Linked DNA regions of Homo sapiens: regions 2 and 3 are each linked to region 1. A link means that fine-mapping ties the variant in region 1 to the expression of a gene that starts in the linked region. Tissue or cell type: whole blood. Region 1 holds a variant in brackets; each other region holds the start of a gene. Each region is shown on its reference strand, or each on the opposite one. Region 1 overlaps ABTB1 (ankyrin repeat and BTB domain containing 1). Region 2 holds the start of MXD1 (MAX dimerization protein 1). Region 3 holds the start of LCP1 (lymphocyte cytosolic protein 1).

The links. PIP is the estimated chance that this variant, and not a neighbour inherited with it, causes the effect. A credible set is the group of variants that fine-mapping cannot tell apart.
Region 2: MXD1 starts here. The variant in region 1 is the best candidate, but not a certain one, in a credible set for the expression of MXD1 in whole blood (TOPMed, PIP 0.85).
Region 3: LCP1 starts here. The variant in region 1 is the best candidate, but not a certain one, in a credible set for the expression of LCP1 in whole blood (TOPMed, PIP 0.65).

The regions. Positions count from the first base shown.
Region 1 is chr3:127,673,384-127,683,558 of GRCh38, forward strand. It overlaps ABTB1 (ankyrin repeat and BTB domain containing 1), which reads left to right. Exons shown (of 12, transcript NM_172027.3): 2 at 1,008-1,070; 3 at 1,162-1,217; 4 at 2,587-2,731; 5 at 2,889-3,048; 6 at 3,153-3,198; 7 at 3,584-3,700; 8 at 3,785-3,903; 9 at 4,082-4,180; 10 at 4,293-4,460; 11 at 6,602-6,802; 12 at 6,886-7,543. The coding sequence ends at 7,092. Among named protein-coding and RNA genes, the nearest start is that of ABTB1, 5.5 kb to the left of the region's middle. RefSeq lists an enhancer at 9,378-9,913. The variant G/C (reference allele first, on the strand shown) is at 5,327.
Region 2 is chr2:69,910,429-69,920,603 of GRCh38, forward strand. It overlaps MXD1 (MAX dimerization protein 1), which reads left to right and starts at 4,681. Exons shown (of 6, transcript NM_002357.4): 1 at 4,681-4,975; 2 at 5,693-5,792. The coding sequence starts at 4,903. It overlaps LOC124906176 (small nucleolar RNA U13), which reads left to right and starts at 2,267; the gene lies at 2,267-2,371. RefSeq lists enhancers at 3,845-3,894, 3,907-4,512, 3,995-4,104, 4,205-4,404 and a silencer at 5,055-5,284.
Region 3 is chr13:46,177,229-46,187,403 of GRCh38, forward strand. LCP1 (lymphocyte cytosolic protein 1) reads right to left here and starts at 4,949. Exons shown (of 16, transcript NM_002298.5): 1 at 4,883-4,949. RefSeq lists an enhancer at 4,612-5,041.

The DNA.
Region 1 (10,175 bases):
GTAGGGCCCGGACGTCAGACCCCCCGGGCGCAGGGCGCGGGTATAGGCCTGGGACTCCAGACGTGGCCCCTTTCTCTCGTGCTCTCTGGACCTGGCGCGGGGAACACCTAGAGCCCATAATCGGCCTCCGGTCCCTGAGGATTCGGAAACTCCTGACGCAGCTAAAGTGAATCTGGCGCTGAGATGCCCCCTCCATGGGCCGGACGCGGAGGGAAGGGGTGCCCAGTTGGGTTCTGGGGCCCTTCCCCTCCTTGGGCTTCCACTATCCCGTTTGACCTCCTTTTTTCTTGGCCCTTCCTCCCCCTTGACCTGGTGCTGACTGACTGCTTCCACCTCCCCTGGGCTGGCGCCGGGCTGCTGTACTCCCGTAGCCTCCCTGGGCCGCTCCCTGACATCCCGTGCCACTCAAGAGTTAGTGCATAGTGTCAACGCTGAGTGGGTTCACAGCACTTCCAGGTGCAGCCTGGAGGCCTCCTTTGGGCTGCCCCCGCCTCAGTGGGGCTGCATTAGCATTGGCGACTCCCCTCGCTCACCTTCCGCATCCCATCAGTTGCTGTATCCCGCGACTCCTGCCTCCTAGAATTGTGTGCCCTCCACACCATCAGGAGGCCTGCAGCAGCTTTTTCCCGGGCTCCCTGCTTCTAACAGGGCCAGCTTCTTCCTGCAGTAGAGAGCTCTGGTGGGAGTGAAGGCTCCATCACCTCCTCTCCCAAACGCTGAAAGGCCAAAGGTCCAGCCTCGGCACTGGCTCTGGCTTCTGTCCCTGTAGCCCATCGTCCCCCAGCACTGATAGCACACAGTGTCTGCCTGTTCGACCCCACCTCCACATCCTTGCCTGCACTTTGCCTTGAGTGCCTCTCCTGCTCTGGTCTGCCTGTCACCTGCCCTCACCTGGGGGAGGCTTCCCCATACCAAAAGGGATGTTTTCTCTCCGTTCCTTTCCACGGGCCTTCTTTCTCAGACCATGAACCCGTCCTGACCCAGGCTCTGACCTCCTTCCTGCCCAGGTACCTGCTGGAGCAGCGAGACGTGGAGGTGAATGTGCGGGACAAGTGGGACAGCACCCCCTTGTGAGTGCTGGAGAGAGGGGTGGGGAGGGTGGGGGTTGGTGCACCCCTTCAGCACTGAGGACTGCCTCCTGTACTTCCTTCCTCCCTTCAGGTACTATGCCTGCTTGTGTGGGCACGAGGAGCTGGTACTCTACCTTCTGGCCAATGGTGAGAGCAGGGAGCCCGGCTCACGGGTGTGCGTGGGTGCATGCATGTGTGCGTGTGGGTGCATGCATGCGTGCGTGCATTCAAAGGCCTTGATACACATTTGCAAAGCACCACGATTCCTCTCTTACCACCCAGTCGAATCAGCAAGTACTATTATTGCTACTTTAAAACCTTTTCTCTGTCCACCTTGCCCATCTCTACTTCTACGACCTGGGCCCAGTCATCAGCATTTCTCCCCGGACACGGTGCCTGCCTCTCTCTTGCCATTGCAGCCAAGTTGATCTTTTCACAATGAATCTGATCGGCTAAAAATCCTCCAGCAAGTTCCCATTGCCTCTAGGATACAGTGAGCCTGCCTGGCCATGCCCAAGGCTCCACAGGGTCTGCCCTCCCACTGGCCTCATTCCTTCGGCTCTCCCTGCTTGCTTGCTGCTTGCTTGCTGCTACACTGGCCTCGCTGGGGCTCCACTGTGCTATGCATGCCCCTGTTCCTGCCCCAGGGCCTTTGCACCTGCAGTTCCTCCTGCATGGACTGCCGTTCTGCAAACGTTCACATGGCCCACTCCCCCTTCATTCAGGTCTCTGCATGCTGCCACCATTACAGAGTGACCTTTCATGACTTCCCTTCATTCAGTGCCATTCTTCTTCCTATTTTGGTTTTTTCTTTTTTTTTTTTTTTTTTTTGGAGACAGAGTCTTGCTCTGTCACCCAGGCTGGAGTGTAGTAGTGTGATCTCGGTTCACTGCAGCCTTAACCTCCCAGGCTCAAGTGATCCTCCTGCCTCAGCCCCTTCAAATCTTCAAATAGCTGAGACTACAGGCGTGCACCACCACGCCCGGCAAGTTTTTGTATTTTTTTTGCAGAGATGGTGTCTCACTATGTTGCCCAGGTTGGTCTCAAACTCCTGAGCCCAAGTGATCCACCTACCTTGGTCTCGCAAAGTGCCTGGATTATAGGTGTGAGCTGCCACGCCCAGGCTTGTTTTTCTTAATAGTCCCTGCCATCGTTAGGTAGTGGGTTGATTGTCCTGCCTCACTAGAGTATAAGTTCAGCAGGACAGGGACCTGTGTCTCGTTCACTGCTGTGCTCCAGTGTGTGGGACAAGCCCAGCCACCAAGTCAGCTCTCCGTTCTGTGTTGTCTGTCTTCCGTGTGAGTGAGTATGTGCCTGTGTGAGTGCACACAGACGTGCCCATTCGCCTAGCCCTTGACTGGGAGGGTGTTGGGGTCAGAGTGGGCCCAGGGTAATTTGGGAAGGCATCGCCAGAGATTCGGAGCCCCATGTGTGGGAAGGTGGGGAGGAGGGACAGGGAGATTAGAATTTCCCCCAGGCCCCTTCCCTGCTAACTGGTGAGCCCTGCCTCCCCCAGGAGCCCGCTGCGAGGCCAACACCTTCGATGGTGAGCGCTGCCTCTATGGGGCACTGAGTGACCCCATCCGCCGGGCTCTACGCGATTACAAGCAGGTCACGGCTTCCTGCAGGAGGCGGGATTACTATGACGACTTCTTGCAGCGGTGAGCCAGGGCACACGAGGGGTGCAGCATGGGGTGCGGTGGCCCTGGTGGGTGTGGCGAGTCTGCTCTGACTGTGGCCTGCACTGGGTTCTGAGTGCTCCGAGGAATGGGGTGGGGCTGTGCCAAGTATCCTCCCTCCTGGCTTGTCCCTCCCCAGGCTTCTAGAGCAGGGCATCCACAGTGACGTGGTCTTTGTAGTACACGGGAAGCCATTCCGGGTGCATCGCTGCGTCCTGGGTGCACGTAGTGCCTACTTTGCCAACATGCTGGACACCAAATGGAAGGGCAAGAGTGTCGTGGTTCTCAGGCACCCACTGGTATGTCCCTTCAGGGTGGCAGAGGGGCATGAACTGTCCAGGAACAGCAGGAGGTTGTGCTGGGTGGCTGCCTCTGACATTACTTTCTGGTTTTCTGCCCACAGATCAACCCCGTGGCCTTTGGGGCCCTGCTGCAGTACCTGTACACAGGTGACCCCCTGGGTCCAGGGTAGGAGGAGAGGGAGTGGGCCGTCCTTCTGGACAGCAGTACACCTAGGTGTGGCTGGGCTGACCTTTCACCTCTAGACACTTCATGGTCCCCCCGGGGTGGTTCCAGCTGCCTCTCGGGTTGGGTTGCAAGAGAGAGGACTAGTGTGCCTGCTCAGGAAGAGCTTGTCCCACCCACATGCTGAGGCCCTCCCATCTGTTCCCTGGGGCCTGTAGAACAGCTTTTGATGGGGAAACCATGGTGGCAAGTGGGCCCAGGAGTCCTAGTCCTGCAGCCAGGTGGCCAGGTGGGAGGGGATCACCCTTTTTCTGTGGGCCTGATGACAGCTGAGGTCCCGCAGGCCCTCATCCTCCCCACTGCCCCCAGGCCGCCTGGACATTGGCGTAGAGCATGTGAGTGACTGTGAGCGCCTGGCCAAGCAATGCCAGCTGTGGGACCTGCTCAGCGACCTGGAGGCCAAGTGCGAGAAGGTGTCTGAGTTTGGTGCGAGCAGGGTTTGGGGCCCGGGGCCATGGGTGCGGCCTGGCAGGGCTGGCCTGGCTCCCTGAAGTTGTTCTTCCCCTGTAGTGGCGTCTAAGCCAGGCACGTGTGTGAAGGTGCTGACCATCGAGCCCCCACCTGCAGACCCCCGCCTCCGGGAGGACATGGCGCTGCTGGCCGATTGTGCCCTGCCCCCCGAGCTCCGAGTAAGTGCGGGGCTGGTGGGCAGGAAGGGCGTTTTGGGATGGCAGGCCGTGACAGGCAGCCCAGATACTTGGGCTCAATTCCTTGTGTGGTCCTGGACCAGTTACTTCCCTTTTCTGAACCTAGTCGTTCACTTCTGTGAACAACTGCTCTGATGGGGTCACCTCTTCTGTACCCCAGGGTGATCTTTGGGAGCTGCCCTTCCCTTGTCCTGACGGCTTCAACAGCTGCCCTGACATCTGCTTCCGAGTGGCTGGCTGCAGCTTCCTCTGCCACAAGGTGCCTGTGCCCTCCTGTTGCCCCTGGCCCCAGCCCGTTGCCCTGAGCCCCCGTCTAGCTCCTCAGGAGACAGACCCTGGCCCTCACACTTCCTGAGCCCGGCCTCCCCCAGGCCTTTTTCTGTGGCCGCAGTGACTACTTCCGAGCCCTGCTGGATGACCACTTCCGAGAGAGCGAGGAGCCAGCGACCTCAGGGGGCCCCCCAGCCGTCACCCTGCATGGCATCTCACCCGACGTCTTCACTCACGTGCTCTACTACATGTACAGCGACCACACTGAGGTGGGGGCTCAGGCAGAGCTGGGGATGGCACACAACCTGTGCTGCCGTGGGCTGAGAGGGAGCGCCAGGGCCCTGGGGGTCTGTGGAAGGGCCCAGCTGGCCCCATGGTTGACGTTTTGAGAAGGCTGGAGGGGAAGGCTGTGGGACTTTGGATTTTTCTTTCAGGTAGAGGAAGCCTTGTTGGGCTCCAGAGAGAGGATGAGTGATGAGCCTGTGTCACAGACACTCCACACTTGTCAGCCACTTGGGATCCTCAGCTTCTCTAGCAGGAGGGTGGAGGGTGGGTGGGGACAGCCTCCTCTCTGTGGTGCTGCAGATCCCTGGGGTTCTGGGTTCCCAGTCTCCTCTTCCCTTGCTGCCTGCCTCTGTCTCCAGCTGCCCCAAGGTGTCCGTAAGCCAAGGCTGCAGGGCAGCAGCAGAGTGCTGAAGGTTTGCTCTGCCAGGGTGTGTGAGAGAGAGAGAGAGTGTGTGTGTGCGTGCGCGTGCGCGCGCACTATAAAGCAATCCCCATATCTGGTGGCTTAAAGAAGAGGGGAGTTTGTTTCTCCTTCACTTCTGACTGAGGTGGGTGCCCCAGGGCAAGTGGCTTGCGGAAGATCAGGTCATCCCTCCATCTTGCCCCTGTATGCCTAAGGGTGAAGGTCAAAAACCTTTTCTCTGAAGGTGAGTGTTTCAGGTTCTGTGGGCCATATGGCCCTGTTGTAGCTACTCAACTCTGTAGCGCAAAGGTAGCCAGAGACAGTACAGAGATGAGTGGGTGAGGCTGCATTCCAATAAAACTTTACTTGCACAAACAGGCTGGATTTGGTCCACAGGCCGTAGCTTACCCATCCTGCCTGGGGCATCGCGTTTGGCCATGGAGATTG[G/C]GTCCTAGGCAAACTCATGCTCTAGGAGGAAGAGGAAGGCAGGGCAAGCAATGCTGTTTTTGTAGAAGCCACCGGAAATTGCACCACTTCTCATGTTCCCCTGGAGAGAACTTCGTGCCTACCTGCCAACAAGGGAGGCTTGGAAAGTCATTCTGTGGCCAGGGCCCTGTTTTGTGGGGGAAGGGGAGGAAGCATGCTGGGAGACAGAGGGCAGTCCCTACTGCTGCTCTATCTCCAGTGGCAGCTCCCTTGTCCATCCCTCCGCGCGGCCTGACAGCCCCTCAGCCTCCATCTTTCCCACCCCCTCTACTGGGCATCTCCTGCAGCTCAGCCCAGCTCTCTGGCCCCTGTAGCAGGGGTTACCTTTGCCCACCCTGGAGAAGCTCCCTCTTCAAGGAGCCTCGCCACCCAAAGGGCACCTTGTCTCAGAGTGTGGCTTGGGCTCTTAACCTGGGTTGATACTGGTTGAGCTGTGTGACACTGGGTGAGCTTTGTGATCTTGGGCCAGTTACTTAACTGCTCTGTGCCTCTAGAACATGGGGATAGCTCTCGTCGTCACTTCCTAAGGCCTTGTGCAGATGCATGGGTTACCCAGGTAAAGGAGGTGGCATGGCACATGGCACATGGCTTGTAATGTGGTCGCAGAGCTCCCCTTGTCTCTGTCTGCAGCTTGCTCCCTGTGCCACCCAGGCTCTGGCCTGAATCTGAGGGCTTCAGTCTTATCCAGCACAGGATGTATCTGTAGGTGGGCTCTGTGTCCCCACAGCCTCTTGAGAGGGAGGGAGCTGGTAGATAGTCTCCCACCCCTGGCAGAGTCCCTGCATAGGTCTTGACTAGCTGCCTCTGTCCCACCATTCTGACAGCCCCCGCAGGTAGGCATGGTTATCTATACCTCATGGACTGGGAACTAGAGGCACAGGGAGGTGCAGTGACTTGCCCAGGGCCCCACAGCTAGAAGTGTCAGACCCAGGTCTGTATAACTCGGAGCTCAGACCCTGGCTCCTGCGAGGGCCCTGCCTCCCGCCTGCCCTGCCAGCCTGCTCAGGGCATGGGAGAACCCCCCAGTCTTCTGCCCCCTAGCGGTCCTGCAGATCCCTGTGGGAATCTGGGCCAGCCCCCCGACCCCCAACCCCATACATGCGCAGGGAGCTCCTACTCCCACTGGAAGCCTTCCCGCCAGTGCCCCCCAACCACCACAGGCCCTAGCCTTGGCTGTTGTGCCCTGGGAGCCCTTGGTGACCTCGGGGGGCACCTTCATCCCTGTCTTCACTGCAGCTGTCCCCCGAGGCAGCCTATGATGTGCTGAGCGTCGCCGACATGTACCTGCTGCCAGGCCTGAAGAGGCTGTGCGGCCGCAGCCTGGCTCAGATGCTAGACGAGGACACTGTGGTGGGTGTGTGGCGCGTGGCCAAGCTCTTCCGCCTGGCGCGGCTTGAGGACCAGTGCACTGAGTACATGGCCAAGGTCATTGAGAAGGTGGGCCAGTGGTCTGCAGTGGGTGGGAAGGAGGGGTGAGAGGGCAGGCACCCCTCCACTGAGCTGGCCCTTCCCGCTCATAGCTGGTGGAGCGGGAGGACTTCGTGGAGGCGGTGAAGGAGGAGGCAGCGGCTGTGGCAGCCCGGCAGGAGACGGACTCTATCCCGCTGGTGGACGACATCCGCTTCCACGTGGCCAGCACGGTGCAGACCTACAGCGCCATAGAGGAGGCGCAGCAGCGTCTGCGGGCACTCGAGGACCTGCTCGTGTCCATCGGTCTGGACTGTTGAGCCCCTGGCTGGGCAGCCCCAGGGGCCAGGAGCTCTCTTGGAGACAAGCATGTGTATGCGTTTGTGTGCAGCTCTTCTTCCTGCTCCCTGCACATTGAGGGCTTCATGGGGGGTGCGAGGGGCTCAGTGGGGCTTCTCTTCCCTCCATGAGCCTGGAGACCCCAGGGGAGGATCCATTTGGGATGAGCCCCCTCCCCCCAATGCACAAGCCAGCCCCCAAGACCCTGGGGGTGGACACCACTCAGGGAAACCTGGGGTGGGGGTGGGCTTTGGTCTTAGCACTTTCCTTCTCCAGATCCCCCCTACCCACCCCAGTCCCAAATCCAGTCCTCTGGCCCTTGCCTAGCCCTGAATTGCTTCTCTAAGCTGGTGTTCCCATGCACAGGGCCATTCAGGAAGGGCTGGGGGAGTGTGTGTGGCAATAAAGCTTGAAGGCACCGTGGGAGCATGAGCCTGTGTCCTGGGGTACAGCTTGGGAAGGGTGGGGCCTTCTGGAGCCAGTGGAGCTGGTGTGACCAAGGAAAGAAGCTCTAGAGTTGGGGGCTCCCAGCAGAGGCTGGCCCAGAGCCCAAGGGCCAGGGTACCTGGCTGAGCAGACCTAGAGATCTGCCACTGACCCCAGTGTGGCCTGGGCCCATCCTGGCTCCCTGCCTCCCTGTCTCCATGGATGCTGGTTGTGGTGGGCCTCATTCTAGGAGAGGGCCAGGACCAAAATGACCATTTTCTGTCAGCCCAGTGCCAGTCTTTTCCCCAGGGAGGACCTTGTGGCCCTTCCTGCAGGGGCTGCTACCTTATTATGGGAAGGTAAGCTGCAGGGGCCAAGGGAGACCTTTCTCCTTGGCCCTCTGAAGGTTCACTGAAAAATTAACTTGCAAAAGGCAGAGTAACAGGAGAAAAGACACGCAAATTTATTTAGCATGTAGACATGGGCGTCTTCAGAATGAAGACCCAAAGATGGGAAGCTGTCCATTGTTAGGCTTAGGCTCAGCAAAGTGTGGCCAGCCGAGTAGAAATGGGATTGGCAAAAAGTGCAGGATCCTATGCTGACTGAACAGGGAAATGCAGCCAGGCCTGTCTAGATTCTTCTTGGTCTCTCTGAGCAGCCTGCCTGCCTACCTTCTGGGTGTGGGGCAGGACCCTCTGGAATGGGGGTCTTATGACCTATAGTCAAACAAGGTGGATCAGATTATTACTTTATGGCCAGTTTTTACACAGATACGGCAGAGGGAAAGTGAGAGTCCTGTTTTTAGGTTTTATGGCTGGCTTTGGGGAAAGGGGGCTCTGGTTTCTAGGGCCCGCCTAGGGGAAGAGGGATTCTAGTTTCTGTGGCTAGCCTCGGGATGATGAGACTGAGAGAAGGGGGCAAAAGTTCAGAGAGAAGCTCCTGCTTCTGAGGTTGTTGCTTGGGTCTTCATTTTGGGGTATTTGAGCCCCAAGGGGGTTTCTCACGATGAGCTGCAGGCCTGTGGACCGCCCCCCCACCAGGCCTCTGCCTTCTAACCTGGTTAAACTCAGTGTCGTGTCATGGCCCTGGGGGAGGAAAGGAAGGCTGGTTCTTTCACAGGGCTTCTAATATCGGGTGTCTCCACCCTCCCTGCAGTTATTTCACAGCTGTTCATGCTTTTTTTTTTTTTTTTTCTTTTCAGACGGATTCTCGCTCTGTCGCCCAGGCTGGAGTGCAGTGGTGCGATCTTGCTTGGCTCACTGCAACCTCCACCTCCCGAGTTCAAGCAATTCTGCTCAGCCTCCTGAGTAGCTGGGATTACAGGTGCACACCACCATGCCCGGCTAATTTTTGTATTTTTAGTGGACACAGGGTTTCGCCCTGTTGGCCAGGCTGAGCTTGAACTCCTAACCTCAGGTGATCCGCCTGCCTTGGCCCCACAAAGTGTTGGGATTACAGGTGTGAGCCACCATGCCCGGCCTCTTCATGCCTTTTTACTATGGTATTTTTGGATTTTTTCCCTTTTTCCTCCCCAGTGCATTTTCAGCCATGTTGCACTGGCATGTTGGTCGTCACATGGGGGAAGTTGTAGGTCTGAAGTGACCACTAGTGAGGGATCAGCTGGGACAAGTCATGGTGCAGCCTGCAGGAGGTGATGAGTGTGTTGGGGAGGTGTCCTGGGTAGGGCCTGTGGGTGGAGATTGTAGTTTGTGCAAGGGCCTGGGATCCTGAAAACAGCCTGAGATGGGATGGGCTGGCGGGGGTCTGCGCATTGCCAGAGCTGAGCTGCGGCCAGAGGACCAACCCCACCGTGGGTCTGCCTTTCACTGCTGGCCACCGCTCTGCCTGTTTGCCCGCCCACAAACTGGGGGTGATTATGGCAACTCCCTCTTACCTAGTGTTTGACCTATCCTGAGCCTGGTGTGTTAAACAAAGGCTGAGTCCACCTGGTGGGTGGGAGGTGGGAGCACGGGAGTGACAGGGGCTCACTCCGGTTGCCCTGGGGCACACAGGAAGGGAAGAGTGAGGCCAGGCTAGTGGCCTAACACCAGCAGGTCTCACCTCAGAGCACACACAAATCCTGGTGTGCCAAGAGAGATTTAAATATTTAAATAAAAAATTTTAATTCCTATGCATTTCTTTTCATATGCATTAGGGGAGAAAATGAGCTACTACATGAAACCTTTTTTTACAGATGTTATTATTTGAAATCATAAAGTTTCCAATCTTGAACAAATTTTAAATAAAACCCTAGTAAGAGGGCAGTTTAAGGAAAAATTATCTGGAGTTGGTATTTTAGTGGTTCACTGATACAGCAGATACATACAGCCAGGTGTACCAGCTATGGCACCTGTTCAGGGAGAGCTGCAGTCTGAGAACTGCCACCCCTCAGGAACTAGGCTGTGTGGTTGTTGGGGCAGCATTCCCCAGCCACACCACACCATTTCTCACTTTATTTTATTTTATTATTTTATTTTATTTTATTTTATTTTTTTGAGACGGAGTCTAGCCCTTTTACCCAGGCTGGAATACAGTGGTGTGATCTCGGCTCACTGCAACCTTTATCTCCCAGGTTCAAATGATTCTCGTGCCTCAGCCTCCAGAGTAGCTGGGGCTACAGGCGCCCACCACCATGCCC
Region 2 (10,175 bases), not on the chromosome of region 1:
ACCTTTAGTTACCCAAGTACTTTATTTTGTATTTAACTTGCATTCAAAAAACAGGATCTCAGTTCTTCCTTCTTGTAAAGTAAGAAAATCTTATTTATGATATATGCAGTTGACTTATCTTGCCTCAACAGAAGAAAAGTTAAATATTACATTTTTTTCTTTTAGGAAATATCATTTGTGGCAAGCGTCTTTCTTGTAACAGTCTTAAAACATCGTGACAAAGCTAAACTCCTTTCGAACAGTACTCAGAATGATATTGCCCATTCTTTCTGCTAATCCTTTGCTTTGTATCTTTTGTCCATGCCTGTATGTATATAGCAGAGTAGGAAATTGGGAAAATACATAGTTTGGGCCTTTAAAAAGAAAATGCTGTAAGGGTTATTTTACAATCTATTTACTCAACACTGTGCCTTAGGGATCTTTTCTTGACAGTATATATAAATCTACCTTTTAAAAAGCTGCTGCATAGTGTTTTGTGTGATATACATATGACAATTTAGCCATTGCCTTTTTGTTTGTTTGTTTGTTTACCTGCTCTGGCTGGAGTGCTGTGTGGTGCAATTATGCTCACTGGAGCATCAACTTCCTGGGCTCAAGCAGTCCTCTTGCTTCAGCCTCCCAAGTAGCTGGGACTACAGGCTGCACCACCACACCCAGCTAATTTATTTTTTGAGTAGAGGTGAGTTCTCACTATGTTGCCCAGTCTGGTCTCAAACTCCTGAGCTCAAGTGATCCTCCCATTTCAGCCTCCCAAAGTGTTGAGATTACAGGCATGAGCCACGGCCCCTGGCTGTTGCCTCATTTTCTAAATCACAGATTTGTAGAGTGACTAATTTTTGCAAAACAGTGTTTTTAAAGGTTTTTAAAATTTAATATTATGATGTTAGGTATCATATTAGTGTGTCCAAAATAGCCACAAAGAAAGAGATGATACTGTTGAACCAGAAACTTGAAATCCTGATTTATCTGCTTCGAGGAACAAAATCAATTCCTCAAAACCTTATAAGACAAAATATATTTTAATGTCATAGTAGTTAGGAGGTATCAAACTCAGTTATAAATAGGGGGCTTTAATTCCCATAGTGATAGAACTTTTTAGGCACTTCAGGATTATAATACGGTAACAGTTTTCTTCCCTGCCACTCTGGGGTGCTCTCTGAAGCGGCATCTCCGGCAGAGAACTCCATAGTGTGTGATGAGCCTGCTGCTTGCTCAGTATTGGCATTTACCTCTTAATATACTGTCCTATGCCCATCTGGAGTATAAGCCTCCCAGAGGAGACTGGGCAGAGATTAACTTGGCAGTAAAGATTATCTGACAAGTCTAATATTTTATGTCTTTGTAATTCCCCATTTTCAAGTATATATCTCAATTAGTTTATCTTGATATGTGCTCAAAGATATAAACTATTGTCATCCCATGTTTATGCTATTACACATAACTTTTTATTTAAAGTTCTGGTCATAAAATTCTGGTTCAAACATTCTAGAATTCCCAGCTTCTATTTCTGGAGCTGTGACTCTCAGTCAGTCAATGCTTAGGCCATGCCTTTGAGGCACTAGGTATTGAAAGTCACCACTTCTTCATTATCTTAGGATTCTCAGTTCTTTCTTCAAAACTTATACTTTCAGGTTTTCTTAATTAACTGGTCATTCCATACATCTGTGTAAAATAATTTCTAGGAAAACTCCGAATCTCAAAACCTTTGTTTTATACTTACTACTTCATTTCCAGTAGATGGCACCAAACACCCTTTGAAGGTCTTCATTATACTAATCCCTAGTTGGTGTTGCTGGCTAATTGATAATTTCATCCACCACCAAGGAACGAACATGGTCTATTCTTCAGCTGATTCTCTAATTTTTATATAATGTAGTATTTTTGTTTGGAGTCTAAGCTAGACTTGTTGGCATTTAAATTATTTGCTGTTTCTGGCTCAGATTTCAACCTTTTTTCCCCCTTTTTAAGACAAAAATAAGTGTGACTTTCTGGTCAGGGTGATTGTAGAGGAAGGGTCATGATACTGAAATAGGACTTGGTTAAAATAAAGAGTTGAGAGTAAGAGACTAAAGACATATGCCAAATGTTTGTAATAAAATTAAAGAGAAAATATAAATATATACAAAATCCAAAATGTCAGGATAATGAAATCAAAGCATTTTTAGTATTATCACTTTGGGTACTTTAGTAGAATTGCACTCGTTTATGATTTTGAAGTTTGTTTTACAAATAACATCCAATTTAAAAATACTCTTTTAAAACTTAGATCCTTTTATAGTTCATAAACATAGTAATTAGGTGTTCCCATTGCATGTATGAGATGTGCCTCCCAAAGAGCTTGTTACAGCGTTAGTACATTACCTGTCTGATATGGAGAAAAAAAACTGTTATATTTCTACCTTCATTTCCAACTTTGTATTGTGCTTTGAAAACCTTTACCTTCAGTATGTGTATTTCATTAGTATTTTCATAAAGAATCAGTTTTTAGATCCAGTTAACCACTGAAACCAGAATATGCCTATATGTCAGGCATGATTTACTACATGTTTATTCTATTTATTGAGTTGATTTAATTTTAGTGGGTTTGTGGACATTAAAAAATACATGTTTAATATTTCCCACCATAATTACATTTACACCTTTGTCTTTCTTTTTCTTCAGTACTTGAGTTGTCAGTGTTTTGTGACTCAGTCTGGAAATCTGTTTAAACCACCTTGTCTTTATACAACTACCAACAGGAGGATTGGTAATTTGGGCTCTGGGTGAGACATACATAGGTTCAGTTTCCATGTCTGCAGCTGAATGCATGACAGGGAAAATCATTTAGCCTCCCTGGGCCTCAGTTTCTTCACGTGCAAAATGTAATTAACACAACCTACCTCATGGGGTTATATTGAGGATTAGAGATAATGTAGGTAGGATACCTACACATAGTAAGCTATTATATATTGGCAACAATAATAAACTTTTAAAAAAAGAAATATGTTCATGCTTTACTCATTTGTATTTTGGGGACTCAACCTACCAAGAACTTTATTTCTACTTTTAAAATTGGAGATGTCTGTCAGTACATTGGCAGTGTAGCTTGGTTTGCCAGATAGCTTTCATTTCAAAAATTTTAATAGGTTTAGGGACCGATCTTTAACCTTTTTAGTTCTGTATACGTAACATTCTATTAAGCATTTATATTGGTACCACCCCATGCGGAAACACACAATTTGCAGACGTCTTAAAGAGTATTCTTGGCCGGGTGCGGTGGCTCACGCCTGTAATCCCAGCACTTTGGGAGGCTGAGGTGGGTGGATCACCTGAGGTCAAGAGTTCGAGACCAGCCTGGCCAACATGGTGAAACCCCGTCTCTACTAAAAATACAAAAATTAGCCGGGCGTGGTGGTGGGCACCTGTAATCCCAGCTACTCAGAAGGTTGAGGCAGGAGAATCGCTTGAACCCGGGAGAAGGAGGTTGCAGTGAGCCGAGATCGCGCCATTGCACTCCAGCCTGGGCGACAAGAGCAAAACTCCCTTTCAAAACAAACAAACAAAAACAATAATCTTGTGAGTGTTTTCATCTAGAATTAAAAGGGAGGGGAAAACCCCAAAAGAGATTTAAGCAAAGAATCTTAGGGTTTAATGCCATTCTGTAGGTTCAGGAAGTCTCTGAGCTTTAAAAAGCCGCTCGCGTGAAAGTAATTAATTATTCCATCACTTCCCGGGGGTGGAGGGGGGTGCGGAAAAGGCGCATGAGCTCAATGCTGTATACTGCAGCCCGATTCCAGCTCTTTCTTGAGGGCAGAAAAAACGCCGAGCGGCGAGCATTTAACAACGGCCGGCTTTTCTTCTCAAGCCCCGCAGCAGCCACGTGGCGCCTGCCCTAGCTCCCGGCTCACCGGCCACTAGCCTGCACCGCTCTTCGGGAGGATTCGAGGCTGGGCCCTCGCCAGCCCGAGTTCCGCGAAGCCCAGAACCTCCAGGGCCGCGGCCACCAGACCGAGGGCTCCGGCCCCGAACCCAAGCGGGGCAGAGCGCCCAGGCGACACGAGGTGCCAGCCTTCCATTCGATGGACGCCTGGCAGGTCCCCGGAAGTTTTCCCCGGGGACAGGTCTTGGCAACAGGTCCGAGGCAAGGCCGGGTGGAGCAGAGCTCCGCAGCGGCTGGTGAATCAGCGCCGCCCAGCGCCGGACCGGCCCTCCCAGCCAATGCCAGACCCGGTGAGGAGCAGCCAGGCTGCTGACCATCAGCCACTTAGGGCTCGCCTGGCCTGGAGAAAGGTGACATCATCGTAGCTGGGAGGTTTCCGAAGGCTTCACCAATGGGAGACCGGCGAGGTGCTTGCCTTCTGCAGCTCTTGGCCAATACTAACAAAGCAAAAGGGGGCCCGGGTTGTTGGTATAGAACCAATGGGAAACAAGGAAGGAGCACGAGGCGGAGTTGCGAATCCTGTCACCAGTTGGAAAGAGGGGGTGGAGCCCGGGCCTTGTCAAGTGTGACCAACCAGCGAGAGGAGCGGACTTTGCGGGGTGGAGCCCTGAAGCCCTCTCCCAATCGCACAAGTGTAGGGGCGGGGCATTCTTTGGGGGGCCCAATGAGGAACGCGGCCGAAGCTGGCCTGTCAAGAGAAGGGGCTGGGGGCGGGGAGATGGTGAGTCGGGGATAAACACTCCGCGGCGGTGGCGGCTGCTGCTCTGCTCCGGGTTCTGTCACTGTGTCGGCGGTGCCCAGCTCACTGGCCCCCTCCCTCTCTTGTCGAGCGTGGTTGCCAGAGAGGCTCCCTCAGCCCTGCTCCGCGGGGTCCACAGCGGGCTCCACAGCGGGCTCCATAGCGGGCTCCACAGCGGTCCGGCGGCGGCAGCGAGCCCGTGGGCAGTGGGGGTTGGTCCCGTGGCTCCGGCCCCCGGTGCAGAATGGCGGCGGCGGTTCGGATGAACATCCAGATGCTGCTGGAGGCGGCCGACTATCTGGAGCGGCGGGAGAGAGGTGCACGGGGACGGGGAGGGGTCCACTCGAAACGAGGCCGGGGGTCCTGTGGGGCCGGCCTCAGGTCCGGGCGCCCAGCCGCTCCGGGGGTGGTTGGAGGCGGGGAGACCGCGAGCGCTCCCAACCCCTCTGGCTCTCCCCACGCGCGGTCCGAAGGGAAGCCGCCGCTGCCCCAAAGCAATGAATGGGGTGGAGAAGGGGCTGCCGCCCGCCGGGGTCCCGAACGCCGCCCCTTCCCCAGCCCTTCACGAGTGGGTGGCCGGGGCCCCCTCCGATAGCCTCCCTGGTTTACCTCACCCGGGCTGGTCCCGGCCGGCCCCCAGGTGGGCCCGGCGCCCCAGTCTCCTGGGCAGAGGAGCAGCGCCTCCCGGTCCCCGGCTCACGGTGCTTGCCCCGCACCTTCGCCTGAGCTGGTTCCACTTAACCCGCACCAACCTGCTGGATGTAGCCAGTGGGAAACCCAGGCTGCGTGAGCCTAGCCACTACTGTGTCTTTCTCAACAATGAGCAGCTGGAATCCTCCTTACACCTGCTCCGAATTGACGATATTCACACAATTTTTTTTTAAATCATTGTTCTCAGAATTCCACCTTACTCCATTTAATTATTTCCACAATATTCTTTTAAAGATAAATAAAGGAAAAAGGAAATACTGTAGAGAGGAGAGAGCATTAAATATTCTGGGCCCATTCATTAACTGGATCCTCCTGTTTTCTAGAAGCTGAACATGGTTATGCCTCCATGTTACCATACAATAACAAGGACAGAGATGCCTTAAAACGGAGGAACAAATCCAAAAAGAATAACAGCAGTAGCAGGTAATTTGGTAAATACTTCTTTCTGTCTTTTAGATTATATTGTAGGTGACACAAACTGCTGAATGTAAGTTTTCTGTTGTGATTATAACCCTATAAAATTACATTGTGGCCGTCATGATTCAGTAATGTACACATGGACTTAAGCCATTGCAGGAAGCTGTTTCTGTTTGGGTTGAGGGAACTGAAAAGAAAAATAGAAATGTTTTACATTTCTTTATGAACTTTATTCAAAATTTAATTTCACTTTTCTTCCCTTTTGGAACAAAAAAATCTGTGGAAGCTTCAAGTGAGATTAGCAATGGTGACAGTATTTTCCCTTCAGAAGTTGCAGATTCAGGGCAAGTTTTCTATAAGTCAAAATGCTGGACATTATCCATTTCTTTTACTTTTCATAGTAATGATTTTATAAACACATTAAAGTACCTGACTTGGCATAAGTGATAGGATCTCATACTTGACATGTAAATTAAATACAGTGGTTTGTTTGATACTCTAATTTGTCATCTCTATTTGTAATGGCAAAGAGGAATGATTGAGGTTAAAACCTACCTCTTTAGTGATAGAGGAATATATAATACCAAAATATTAATATGCTACAACTTTTCCATGTTAGCCTTATCGATTATCTTATACCGTAGTTCTTAAAAGCTGTGAATCTCACTGGAGATTTGGTTCATGGTCAGTTAAATCACATATTAAAGTCCTATGCATAGTTTCTGGTACATGCAAATAGTCCATCAATGTTGCTGCCCGTTTCCCCCCTTCTTTGCCCTTAAAATATAGTTGGCTAGGAAATTTGTTCTATTAGATCCCTTCAACTATACCTTTCCTGCCAGTAAATTAAAAGCATTGACCTTTTCGTCACTAGTTTAGAATCCTTATCCCTCCCTCACCCTCATGAATAACTCCTTGCAAGTATCTATTTGGATATCCTCTGTGGCTTAATACAGACCAGGAATTTCCCACTTAAACCTAAAAATCACTTGTTCTTGCTGCGTCTTCTGTACTTGGTTTACCTCTTTAGTATCGTTAGTGGAACCACAGGATGTGAGCAGCATTACTTGTGCCATGCCCTTGAATAAAAATGGCACTTGAAGGATCAACCTGGTAATTACCTGGTAGGTTTTGCTTGTCCTCCCACCTTAGCATTACCTGAAGGTGGTAGCCAGTAGTTTTGTGCATGGGTATGAAGGCACTTTAAGAAAGATGTTAATACTGACTTGTAATATGCAATGGTGTAAAACCAATTAAGCTGTGTTGCATTTTGTTACAATATTTTTTTAATTTTGTTTAGAAGAATTTTGAGGCCTTTCAGTTAATTTTTCTGGAAAAGCATCATCCATTTTTGCTTTTATTATTGTCCACTAATGATTTGAGAGGAATTGTCCAAGTTACTTATTGAGGCTTAATACCTTAACACTTTGTTTTTTTCCTTAGTTTCACAGGAAGGTTGTAGGGGATGTTCACTAGTGGGGATAAGAAAATGAGATGTTGAAGTGGCTTGGTCCCAAAAGGTGATTAGGAAAGAAAAATAATAGTAGTTAAGAATCTTAAGCCAAGAAATGGATTCTTTCTAGTATCTTCTCTTTAATAATCAGTACTATGCCAAAAAAAAAAAAATAAAGGCTACAAATCCTTCTGTTAATGGGTTGGTTTGCTTTCCATGGTTAGAGACGGGATTATCACAGTTGTCCATACACCTGACTGATAGTGAGTTAGTGTAATATATTCAGTGGTGTAAGGATTTCTGAGAGACCATGATTAAACCTAGAGGTAGCACCAGCCAAACGTGTGAGGCAAGAGCAGGCAGTTTTCTTTCAGTGTGATCATTTCCTTCATGACTCATTTGGAATAGCTCCTTTTCTGAGGAACAAGCAATCATAATGGAGAAAGCAGCTTGACCCCATGGTTTGAATCGGCTTTATATCCTCAGCCATGTATGGTCAGAATTTTGAACTGAGGTAAAGGATAGGGAGAGATTACTGCTGGTTTACATAACCCTTGGATAACAGTTTATTCTTGTTCTTACAGGTTGAAATGCTGTGCTTTTTGCTTGTAGAGTCTAGGGAAGTACTTTTCCTTGGACAATAAAAGATAAGATTTTGCCACATAGGAAACTTCTTGGGAACTGAAAATGCAGATCTTATTCACGTTTCTCTAGTTGCTTATTAAAACAACAAAAATGAAAATGAAATTGTGAATATCAATTGTTTTTGAAATTATCCATAGAACTGCTGGAATATGGGAAGATGGAAGTTTCTTTCCTACTGATTTTTGAAGTCAATTACTAATTATTTAGAATTGAAATCTAGAACTTCTTAAAAGTGTGTTTTGTTCAATGAGTAAAGCAAGCTTTGGCACTCACGTGAAAGAGGAAGTTCAGGACTTGCCACCCAGTTGTTTTATAAGACAGTGGCTAGAGTGACCTGACATGAGGAGTGTTTTTGAACCCAAGAATTTTTCCTGGTTATCTCAGATACGCCGTAATTTGGCTTAGTTTTTTTTTATTAGAGTGTATTTTTAAATGGTGAAATTTGACCTTTATCAGTGATTCCAGAGTTATCCATTGTTTTCCATAATCACATGGAAAATAGTTTTGACACAAGGTATCAGTGTGTTCTTACAGTGCTTTAATTAAAAACGTAAATGTTTACCCATCAATGGAGGTGGCTGGCAGTCTCGGAACTGATCATTTTTGAAAGGGCTGCTTTTTATTAATAACTCAGTTTCAGTAAACTAGATGCACTTCAGTAATGCTCTAGCCATTAAGTACAAGTCCCCCTTTAAAAAGCACCATGTGTTTAACACTCGAGTAATCAAATAAAATCTGTAGTTTTAAAAATTTTGTTCAAATTTTGGAAGAAGTTGTGCTTCCTATGGAGTTTGTTTAAAAGTTTATTTTGGGGATTCAGAATTTTGCATAAGTATATAACTCTATTTATTAGTTTATATATTTTCAAAGAATCCAGAAATATTTTGGTAAGAATTTCCTGTGTGCTGTTATTTTCTACTCTCTTCTCAACCTATTCACTTTCCTCTCCTCCACCTACAAGGGGTGGTCCTTGTCTACAGTTAAAGAGGGTAATCTCAACCAACTGTTGGCATATACTTTCATCCATTTTATTTTATTTATTTATTTATTTTTAGACAGTCTCGCTCTGTTGCCTAAGCTAGAATGCAGTGGCACCATCTCGACTTACTACAACCTCTACCTCCTGGGTTCAAGTGATTCTCCTGCCTCAGCCTCCCGAGTAGCTGGGATTACAGGCGTATGTGACCATGCCTGGCTAATTTTTGTATTTTTAGTAAAGACGGGGTTTCGCCAGGTTAGCCAGGCTGGTCTCGAACTCCTGACCTCAAGTGATCCACCCACCTCAGCCTCCCAAAGTGCTGGGATCCCACTATGCCCATCTACTTTCATCCATTTAAAAAAATCTGTCAGGCTTTGAACTTACTAGTCCCGGTTAAAGTTAAAATGCCACGTGCTTTAGAGCCAAAGGTTTGCAGTATATGCCAGATTCTTGTTAACTATAGTATCCTGTTGGCCATTGAAGGCAATAAACCTTCAGAACAATGTGACTGGAGAATGCTGAGGGATAACCAAGTGAATCAGTGTAAAGCTTTTATTTCTTTTTAATTGAGATGGGCTCTTGCTGTGTTGCCCACACTGGTCTCCAACTCCTGAGCTCAAGCAATTCTCCTGCCTCAGCCTCCCAAAGTGCTGAGATTACAGGTCTGAGCCACCATGCCTGACCATTTTAAAGTTTTGTTTTGTTTTGTTTTGTTTTGTTTTGTTTTGTTTTGTTTTTGAGATGGAGTCTCCCTCTGTCGCTAGGCTGGAGTGCAGTGGCACGATCTCAGCTCACTGCAACCTCCAACTCCCTCGTTCAAGGGAGTAGCTGGGATTACAGGCACGCGCCACCACGCCCGGCTAATTTTTGTATTTTAGTAGAGACAGGGTTTCACCATGTTGGCCAGGATGGTCTCAATTTCCTGACCTCATGATCCGCCTGCCTCGGCCTCCCAAAGTGTTGGGCTTACAGATGTGAACCACTGCGCCTAGCCTGAAACTTTTAAGTTAACCAATTTTGGATTGGTTTGAATACATGAGGTCCATATATTGTTTACCTAGAAAACAAATATTCTAAACTTAAAATACTGTCATTTTCTCATTTATTTTTTCTTCGTGAATAAAAATTGATTCCTAAGATCCCTGTGAAAGAGAAGTTTAATGCTAGGTTGGAAATTTCTCATTTCAAGACAACCTCCTCACTTCCGCTGCCATCCCCCCACATTCACTCTCCTTACCCCCATTCTCTGATGAGTGAACTTGATGTTGGTGCCCCTGATGTAAATGAGTGGCTGAGCACTCTTGAGGTGGTA
Region 3 (10,175 bases), not on the chromosome of region 1:
CCATTACTATACAATCATAGATATGTGTACTTGGGTATAAAAAGTAGAATGTTTAATCTATTCATGTCTATCAGTCACAACAGACTAGAAAATGTGAATGCCACTTGACTAAAATTATTCTAAACTTTAAAGGCCGGGCGCGGTGGCTCACGCCTGTAATCCCAGCACTTTGGGAGGCCGAGGCAGGCAGATCACGAGGTCAGGAGATCGAGACCGTCCTGGCTAACAAGGTGAAACCCGTCTCTACTAAAAATACAAAAAATTAGCCGGGCGTGGTGGTGGGCGCCTGTAGTCCCAGCTACTCGGGAGGCTGAGGCAGGAGAATCGCTTGAACCCAGGAGGCGGAGGTTTCAGTAAGCCGAGATCACGCAACTGTACTCCAGCCTGGGTGAGCCAGGAGGCAGAGGTTTCAGTGAGCCGAGATCGCGCCACTGCACTCCAGCCTGGGCGACAGAGTGAAACTCTGTCTCAAAAAACAAACAAACAAACAAACAAAAGACTAAGAACCTTTTAAAGTTTTTGAGGGTGGAGATCATGTTTTGTGACCCATGCAGAGGCCTGTAATTGTTAACAACCAACTTCTACTCAGTCAAGTGTACAGAGGGGCTGACTACTGATGCTGTTGCTGCTGCTGCTGCTGCTGATGGTGATGATAATGATGATGATGATGATATGATGACACAGAATAATTTGTTTATAAAAGCACTTATCATATAGATGCATTTATTTGGGGAAGTATTATGATTATTTGAGCTCAACTTGAGGGCTTAGTTACAAATAAGCACCATGGTTTGCTACCTGTTTATTCCAGGAAGTTGCCTTGAAATTCAACAGTTAAGACAAAATTGATCCAATTGTAGAAAATTAAATAAAATACGTGAATGAATGAACTTGCCTTCAAATATGAAGAGGACACCAGACACTACCTCACAGGACTGTATGACAACTAAATGCTTTCATAGGGTTAAAGCACTTAGAAAAACACCTGATTCAATGTAAGTATTAACGTTATTATTAGGATGATTAATTGAAGCGCCTTCCACTCCCCCCCATCCCCCACCGATATCTTACAAGATGGAGCAGTTATGCAATTTCTGGGCAGACTGATGTAAGCATTGAAACTGACAAACCAAAACAACAGGAACAGTCAATAGTATAAGGCAGGAAGTTGGATCAGAAGGGAACTGAGGAAAGCAACAAGGAGATGCCATCTGGGGAACACCACGGCCACAGCAGCTATAGGGAGATATCCCTAGGAAACCAACATCTAATCAGGAGGTGACTTCCGAGAGCCTCAAAATGAAGACCCTGTAGAACATTAACACTTTTTTAAGGAGTGCGCTTCCATCTGGCAAAATAGGAACACTTGAAACTCTTCAAATCTGTGGACACTGATTAGTTTTATATTTTGATGTGTCCTAATTCTAATGTTTATTTCTGCAGTGTTCAGTATACAGATGAAATAGTATCATTTCATTTGATATCTGTAAGTTGGGAAACTAGCAGATAAAAAAACACTAGGAAGAAAATTAGATTAACTGAAATAATGTCACTCTACTATAAAATCTACTATTAGTAATAAAGTCCAAGCCTTTATAATCTTATTTTATAAGTGTTTGACTCTTCATAAGTATAACCTTATAAGCAGATTTCTTAATTTTATTTTACCTAAGCTGATTTTAAAAGTTGCTTGCCATCTCTCCTGTATACACAGAAGGGCCTGTACTCTTTAGGTAACAAGGAGAAGTTGACTTGAGAATTTTCTGAGAATAATCCAAAGTGACTAAGTAAAAGTTAACAACTGCCCTTGTGTTCTTTGTCATCAAAGAGGCCCATTATTGGGTATATAGTTTTGGCAAGGGTAGCTAAGTTTTGGCCCAACCAATGTATTTATACTAAAAAAATGAGATTGTAATTTTCCCTGTTTGTTAGTCATTGTACAATTTTTTAAATTTCTTGAGGTCAATGTCTATATGATACTTTGAAGCTAAAATGAGACTAGGGCTTCGGTAAAGCTGAAACATGGTAGAATGCAAAATATTATATTATTGTTGCATCTTCATTCATAGCAATAAATGGAAACTCAGTAAATATTAAGTTAATAAGTACAATCAAAGTCTTTCATGCGTATGTAAGAAGCTGAGAAAAAAAATACTTGTGACAAATTTTCAATTCAATAAATGCCTTTAGTATCTACATGTGCCAGGAAAGATGGAGAAGGAGCTCAGGTCTGTCAGCAAATAAGTACTTGAAACTAAGACAATGTGATTAATGTTATACTTACTCCAAGATCAAAGCATTGAGCAAATGCACACCAAAGAAACATTTAGTGGGGGCAGGGAGAAGATGGGAAGGCCTCCAAAAGGGTATGTTTCTTGAAGTCCGCCTTGAAAAATGATCAGAAGTTTTAAAAATAAAGAAGAATGCAATTAAAGAAACAGTTGCAGTGAAAAAAGGTGAAAGAGAATGGAACTTTCTGGTGGCTTGTGGTCTGGTGCACCAAAATGTGGGTTAGCAGTGGCGGGGGAGGGGATGGGGTAGTGGGAGGTTGAACAGAAGGAAGTGACAAGAAATAAGATTGGGGAAGTGGGTCGAGGCAAGTTTGTAAAGGCACACAATTCTTTAGTAAAATTATGCATTAATTTAAAAATAGTTCTTCAGCCCATTATTATATAAAACCTGCAATGGTATCTCTTATTTATAAAAATAAAAATGTTTGTAAATTTATTACAAAGTTTTTCTTCTCTCTCTCTCTCTCTTCTTTCTCTTGCTCTCTCTCTTTTATTCTCTCTTAAAACTGTGAGTGCCAAGATCTTGTTAGCTAGCTTCAGTAATAAAAGTCTATAATCACCTACCTCTGAGAAAAATATGCTGGCCTGGAAGGGAGGATCTGTAACACACACAGTCAGTAGGAGCCTGAAATCCTGGCCATCTACTGCCCCCCACCCCAACTGCCCAGTGACCTATGGCCGGTTCCTTCAATTATCTAGCCCATTCCTTATCTCTAAAGGTAGCTGAGAGGATTAAACGAGGTAATGCATAAAGAGTAGCTGCTTACACTACGTGCTCATAATTATTGAGTGCTATTATTAATTTCCTGTCCTCTCCAAGTTAAATGGTACTTTAACAACAAGTAAATGAGACTTTACTTGTTGGTCTTCCCTTCCCCAAAGGGTTCAGAGATAGAATTATAAATGAAGTTAAAGCACTGAAATTGTTTCCCAAATTACCAATTGTTTCAAGGCATAATTTACAAAAGAGACAAAAATTTAAATGCTACAAAGAAAAGGGTCTCTGGGATTGCTAAGGAAATGTCCTCCTAGGCACAACTCCATCCCACCACAGCAGTGCTTGTTCAAAGGGCAAGACCTAGAAGATTTTTCCCCTGATGTTCCTGGGGGTGAGCTAGAATGAAGAGGAATATCTTTGTAACATATGGGGTTGATGCTTTAGCAATGTAAACTTAACTTTAAACAGGGGACCTTTATATTTTGAATTAACTTTCGCATAGTTCTTTTTTATTCCTTCGTAAATATAAGAAAAATACTGACATTCCTTCACATTCGAATTTATTTTATTCTCATTAATAGTTTTACTTAAAATAAGACACAACATATTTTTAGTCTGTTCTTTTACGGGGTTCAAGTCCCTCTTATCTCAGTTTCACATTTTTGCTTGTTTGAAACTATTCAGGTGAGATGTGCAAAGTAACATTGGTGGTCACATTTTGCAGTTTCCAGAAATTCACATTTATAGGTAAATGATTAATTCTATTCAAATTTGTCTACACAGACATTCTTTAAACAATTATACTTAATAGAAACCAAACTTATGACAAATGTATGTAAATTCAAAATCAAGATGTGTGTGGATAAGCCACCTTTATTTGCTTACTGATAGTTCTGACAGAGTAATTTTAGAAAACAAGTTGCTGTGTAAAAGAAAAGTTCGGTTTTGATAAACATCCTGATTAATGTTCGCATTTCCAGTCTGAATGGCTTTTATAGTTATCATTTGTCAATGGTTCTTAGTGTTATGTGATAGTGGTAATTAAGTAAAAGCTTATACTACAAAATCCAAAGTGTCTATGTTTGGGCAGTTTCTGAAATAAATATCCCATATCAACTGTGTAAAAATTTCTATTGTAGATAAAAGCCTTTCTCCCAGAATTTGAGTGAATATTCATTGATATGGTCATAAGCATAACAAATAATTCAGACAATCCTACAAAAACACTACAATTAAGCATTATACAAATTGCTTTTATTTTTAGAGAACAAATGGAAAAGAGAAAACCTCTAATTCCATGTGGTTATAAAGCACACCCATTAAAAACCCTTGGCGCCAAAAATCACTCAAATAACCAGTATCACATTCAGTAACATATGACTCTAGATAATTTATCCACTAAAGTACTGTAAAGAAGTTTTTTAGAAAAACAGAACCGCAGGAACTAAAATTAAACTACCCCCATTGGGCCAATAAGCCATACAATCTAAATTATCAATACGCGCTTTTCCTGAAAACATTTTAAAGAAGATAAAATCACAGTAAATAGCCTCCGTGAAATAGAGCAATAGAAATAAACCAGAACATGGTTTGGTTTTAAAAGGAAAAAGAAACCTTAATTTTGGGCAGGGGTGATAACTGCAGATAAGTTGAGAAGAACCCAGCCCAGAGAGCCGAGGTGCTCCATCTTGGATGGCCACGCGAGGTGGCGGCAGATGTCCTGGCCAGTTAGACAGTGGCAGGAATCACAGAGGTCTCAGGTGACATGCTCAGATCTCTGGTCCCCTGAAGGCAAAACCCACAATCCACAGAAACAGTGCCGAAGTGCATCACAAGCGCTTAAAACCAACAAAAACACATGAAGAACATTTACCTTGCAGGAAAAAAGCTGTCCTTGGTAGTACTGGTGTATGACCAGGAACCCCTTCTTTCTGATCTGCAGAACAGCTTTGTCAAGCCTGGGTGTGTGGTCACAAGGCAGGAAGTGACTAGAATGACAAATCATCAGCCAGGAAAGAAAAAGATTTTGTCTTTATAAGGACATTTTAACTTTTTTTTCATGTCCCCGCCCCACCAAAAATCACCTGACAGAACAGGTCACAGTGAAATTCAGACACCTCCTACCACTTCCTCTTTTTTTTTTTTTTTTTTGAGACAAGGTCCCGCTCTTTTGCCCACCTCTTTATAAGCATTTTTCTCTCTCCCTTTCTCCTCCAGCTGTCTTTGAGTAGTCCCTGGGCTACTTAAACCTTTCTGATTCTAGATAGCAAGGCAAGATCAGCCTGATAACTTGACTTCTTTGACTCTAGTTGCAAAAGCAAAGCCCAGATGCCTACCTACTTACAGCAAAGATCAACAAATTTTTCATTTTTAGTGAAAGAGCCAGGGAAAAAGGTGGCAGTACACCTGAAACAAATGAAAAGGGACTTCCTTGGGAAAGCCCCACCCCACCTGAAATCAAACCTCTCTGGAGTCCTCTAACAGTGATCTTATTGGTGCAAACAAAACAGAACGATCTCTTTAAGTGAAGGACATGAAAAGGAAGGTTACTAGATTATTTACTCATTCTTTTATTTATAGAACATCTATGTGCTAGGGATCTCTTTAACCCAATTAAGTATCTCAATTATTTAAGCGTTTCCTATAAAGAGCAGCAGTAGATTGCACAGGCAGCTGTTATATTTAAATGGGTAGCTTAATTCCTTCTTACAGGCAGGATTTTTTTTTGAATGCACATTTTATAAAATTAGCAGGTGGTGGCAGGGGAAGCTCTGTTCTGTACCCAAACCCCAGATGCTTGAGGGCAAATTCCTATCTTCAAATGGAGCATCCTCAAGTGCTCACAACAGTTGTGAAGACTGTGGCACCCTGAGTTATGTTGACTAAATATTAGACATGTCTCCACATTGCCCGGAGACTGTGTGTGACTCCAGTAGTCAATCTGCCGTTTAGGAATGAGGGTATGTGGCTGTACTCCCAGGTCAGATGCTGCGCTGAAGATATCTGCTCCAGAGTTGACATGCGTCCGTGTCCGCTGGGCCACGGGCCTCTCAGGTGGTCACGGTATTCTGACTGGTTGGAGGGCTGCCCTTATACTTCTTTTGCTTTTTTGATTTCTCCTCTAGAAAGTTCCTGTTTCTGACCTTAAATGTTAAACCAAACTGTTCTGGTTTATCTACTTCATTAGCCAGTGGTGTGGTGACTTCATCAGAAGCCCACAGGGGCTATCTTGAGGAACTGGGTGGGCGGAAGAACAGGACGAGACGGTGGGGATTCTAGAAACGGTTCACCTCACAGAGAGCTATCAGCCCTCTTGTGATTTCCCAGGGAAGACTGAGGGGGTGATGGGACTCTGTTTTCTCCATCGCATAATCACTCCCAATTAATAAGTTGCAGAGAGCTTTCAAGAAGCACCTACATTCTTTCAGGACACCAGAGGAACATCCATGCATCACTGTTACAGCACTGCTCACGCTACAAAGCAGCAAAATGCTGTCTTCATTCGGGGCCCTGCAGCAGGACTCTGTAGATAATGTCCTGCTGGTGTTACAGATACAAGGGGTTGTAACTGTGGACCTCCCTGATCTGGTTCCACATCCTGGTGGCTTCAGGATGGCATAAAGGCCCAACAGTAACACTTCATGAAGGGGAACAGATATTTATTCCTTTACCTTGGAGAAGGAAAGCACAGTGTTCTGTATCTAGTGGTGCCTGGTCATCTGAGGCCGGAGGAATCTATGAAGAAGAGCAAAATATATTTGTGCATTGGTTCAGCAAGTGTTTGCATGCCTGTCTGAATTGGTGATTCAGAAATAAATAAGACACAATCGCTGTTCTCAAGGAGTATAGTCTAGTGGGGAAAAAACATGTAAGTAAATAAATGCCATCTATAATAGAGGGGTGAAAAAGGCAGTGTGATATCAAAGCAGTTGCAGATTTGAGCAGAGGTGATGTTTGTTAAGTGAAGAAAAAGATTTAGGATTCCAGGCAACGTCGAGGTTGTAGAAGATGAAAGGCATTGACCTGGGTACTGCTTACAGCCACCCAGTTAATAGAGTCGTCTTCTACCCTAGCATCCACGGCAGGCACCCACACCCCCTCAGCCACATCCTGGCCGGCACCATTGCAAGCCCTGCCCTACTCCCTCAATCTTAATCTCTTTATCTGCCTCTCATTGGTGTAAGTCTACCCAGTTTCAGGCAATTGTTTAGGTCCTAGACCAAGACTTTTTCAGAGAAGTGTATTTTTTTGCTGTTGGTGTTTTAAATTGCTTGTGCAGCATAGTACTAGTAAACAGAAGACTGACTTTTGGTTTTCTTACGTTTTTATGTTCTGTACAGACAGTGCGCCCCCTTATGGCCTGAAGCCGGAGTGGACCTTTCTCAGCCCACCCTCTATGAGCCTCCACTGCCACCTGTTCCTGGCCTGGGTTTTGCCTTCCTCTAAGCCCTACCACCCTCTCAGACTTCATCCCACCCTCTCCTGCCCTGAAGCCTCTGGCCTCAGTCCCAGATATCAGATCACCTGCTACTCTCAGGCCTCTAAATATTGCTGAGGAAAGTCACAGAAACACAAACTTGGAATGCTAAAAAGTCAAGATGCTTGACTTCAAATTACTTTCAGAAATACTTCTATTCAATTTTACTAAGTCTTGAGAACAGGCATTCTCAACCTGGAGTCCATAGACCCCTAAAACTAAATGCACAATTTTGTGTGTATGTACTTTTTTTCTGGGAGAAGGGTCCATTGTATTAGTAAAGAGATCACAGACCCCAAAAAGTTGGGTATTTATTCTAAACTCTCTCCTCTTGCCTCAACCTTCCACTTCACCCTCCTATGCTTTGTCCTGGCCCAAGATTCTTCTGTTGCCCCTTCTTGACTGAGATGATCCAAGTCGTCTGGTATGAGCTTCCTCTCTACTTCCACAATATCCACCTCTTCCTCCTCTCTTTCAGTCTTAATGGAAGCGGCATTCTTCTTTCTTCCCAAGGTCAGTGTTTCAACACTATCTCACTCTTAATATTCTACTTCCTTAGATATCTTGCTCCATCAATTGTCTCGTGTTTCTCTAGCATCTTAATGCTAGCATCTTCAGCTCTCCCCACTTCCTCTCCATGCACTCATGGGATTTGTATGAAGAGAAAAACACCTTTGCTTCACTCTGCAGCCCACCCTCATCCCAACATATCATGGGCAGGGAATGAAGATGAATTAAGATGGGTACAGTCCTTGCCATTGTAGAATGTCCACTGTAGTTGAAGACACAGACAAGGAAAAAAGGCAAGTGAAGAGTTATCTACTTGGAAGCACAACAGACGAAAAGCAGCGTCCCTAGGAGCACACAGCACTAACCCAGACATGGGACCTGGGAGGCAGAGAGAGGGAGCATCAAAGTGGTGAAGAGTAAAGATGCTGGGCCAGCTGGCTGGGGTCAAGTTCCAGCTCTACTGTTGTACTAGCTGTGTGATCTTGGGCAAATTAGTTACTTGCACTGGCCTCAGTTTCCTAGTCTATAAAATGGGGGTAAGAACAGTGTCTATTTTAGACAGTTGTTGCAAGGGGTAAGTGAATTGATATATGTAAAGAACTTAGAAGAGTGCCTGGCACGTAGTATATCCTATGTACGTGTTAACTAATCGCTTAATATTTACGTCAGGCTCTGGACTAGACCCCTAACATCCATTATTTCATTTATTCCTCACAACAACTCTATGAATTAGGTATGATTGTTAATTTTTTTCTTTAATTTTTAAAATAATGGCTTCATTGCAATATGATTTACATACCATAAAATTCACCTTTAAAAAGTATACAATTCAGTGGTTTGTTGTATTTTAACAGAGTTGTGCAACAATTACACTATATAATTCCAGAACATTTTCATCATCCCCAAAAGAAACTCTGTACCTGTTAGAGATTCCTCCCCATTCACCCCCATCTCCCAAATTCCCAGCCACAGCCAACCACTAGTTTATTTTCTCTCTCTATAAATTTGCCTATTCGGGACATTTCATATAAAGGGAATTACACAATACATGCTCTTTTGTGACGAGCTTCTTTCACTTAGCATGTTTTCAAGGTCCATCCATGTTGTAACATGTCACTACTTCATTTTATTATTTATTCATTTATTTTGAGATAGGGGCTCACTCTGTCGCCCAGGCTGAAGTGCAGTGGTGTGATTATAGCTTGCTGAGGCCTTGAACTCCTAGGCTCAAGCCATCCTCCCGCCTCAGCTTCCTGAGTAGCTGGGTCTACAGGCACGCACCATCACACCTGGATATTTAAATTTTTTTTTTTTCTATAGAGACAGGGTCTTGTCATGTTGGCCAGGCCGGTCTCGAATTCCTGGGCTCAGGTGATCCTCTTGCCTCGGCCTCCCAAAGTGCTGGGATTACAGACATGAGCCACTGCACCTGACCTTCACTCCTTTTTATGGAAGAATGCTATTCCACTGTATGAATATATCACATTTTATTTACTCATCAGCTGATGGATATTTGGATGCTGCCTACTATTTGATATTATAAAAATGCTGCAATTAACATTTGTGTACATTTTGTGCGTGTGGACATATGTTTTCTTTAATTTATTAATCAAAGTAATATATGTATTTGGTTTTAGAAGTCAAATATTACCTCAAGGCTTCTCATGAAACACCAGTCTCCCGACACACTCCTTCACCTCTGATTCCCATTCCCTAGAACCAAGTATTTTGAACAGTTTTAGCTAATTCTTCTGTTATTTTATTACATATTTCTAGATGTTATGCTTATGGTGTATCTTGATTGGGTTCAGATACCTACATATATTTATGTATATGTATATATATGTTCATATATTTTTTCCTTCCTACTTGAGAGATAAATATTTGACCCTCTCACATCCCCCAGTCCAACATATACATGTTAACCTTCCCATCATCCTCCAGAACAGTTTATAATACCCTTTTATTTAAATCAATACTCAGCTTTTACAGTAACTCAAAATATTCATAACTGAGTTAGGAATATTTTGCATTATGTTTTTGTATCTTTTTTTGATATGCTAGGTTTCTACGTACTTATTACTAATTCTGTATAAACTCTCCAACAGAGCTAAAATTCAATTTAAAACATCAAGAAATGAATCCATTCCTTGTTTCCCCCTTGGAGAGGCCCTTCCTC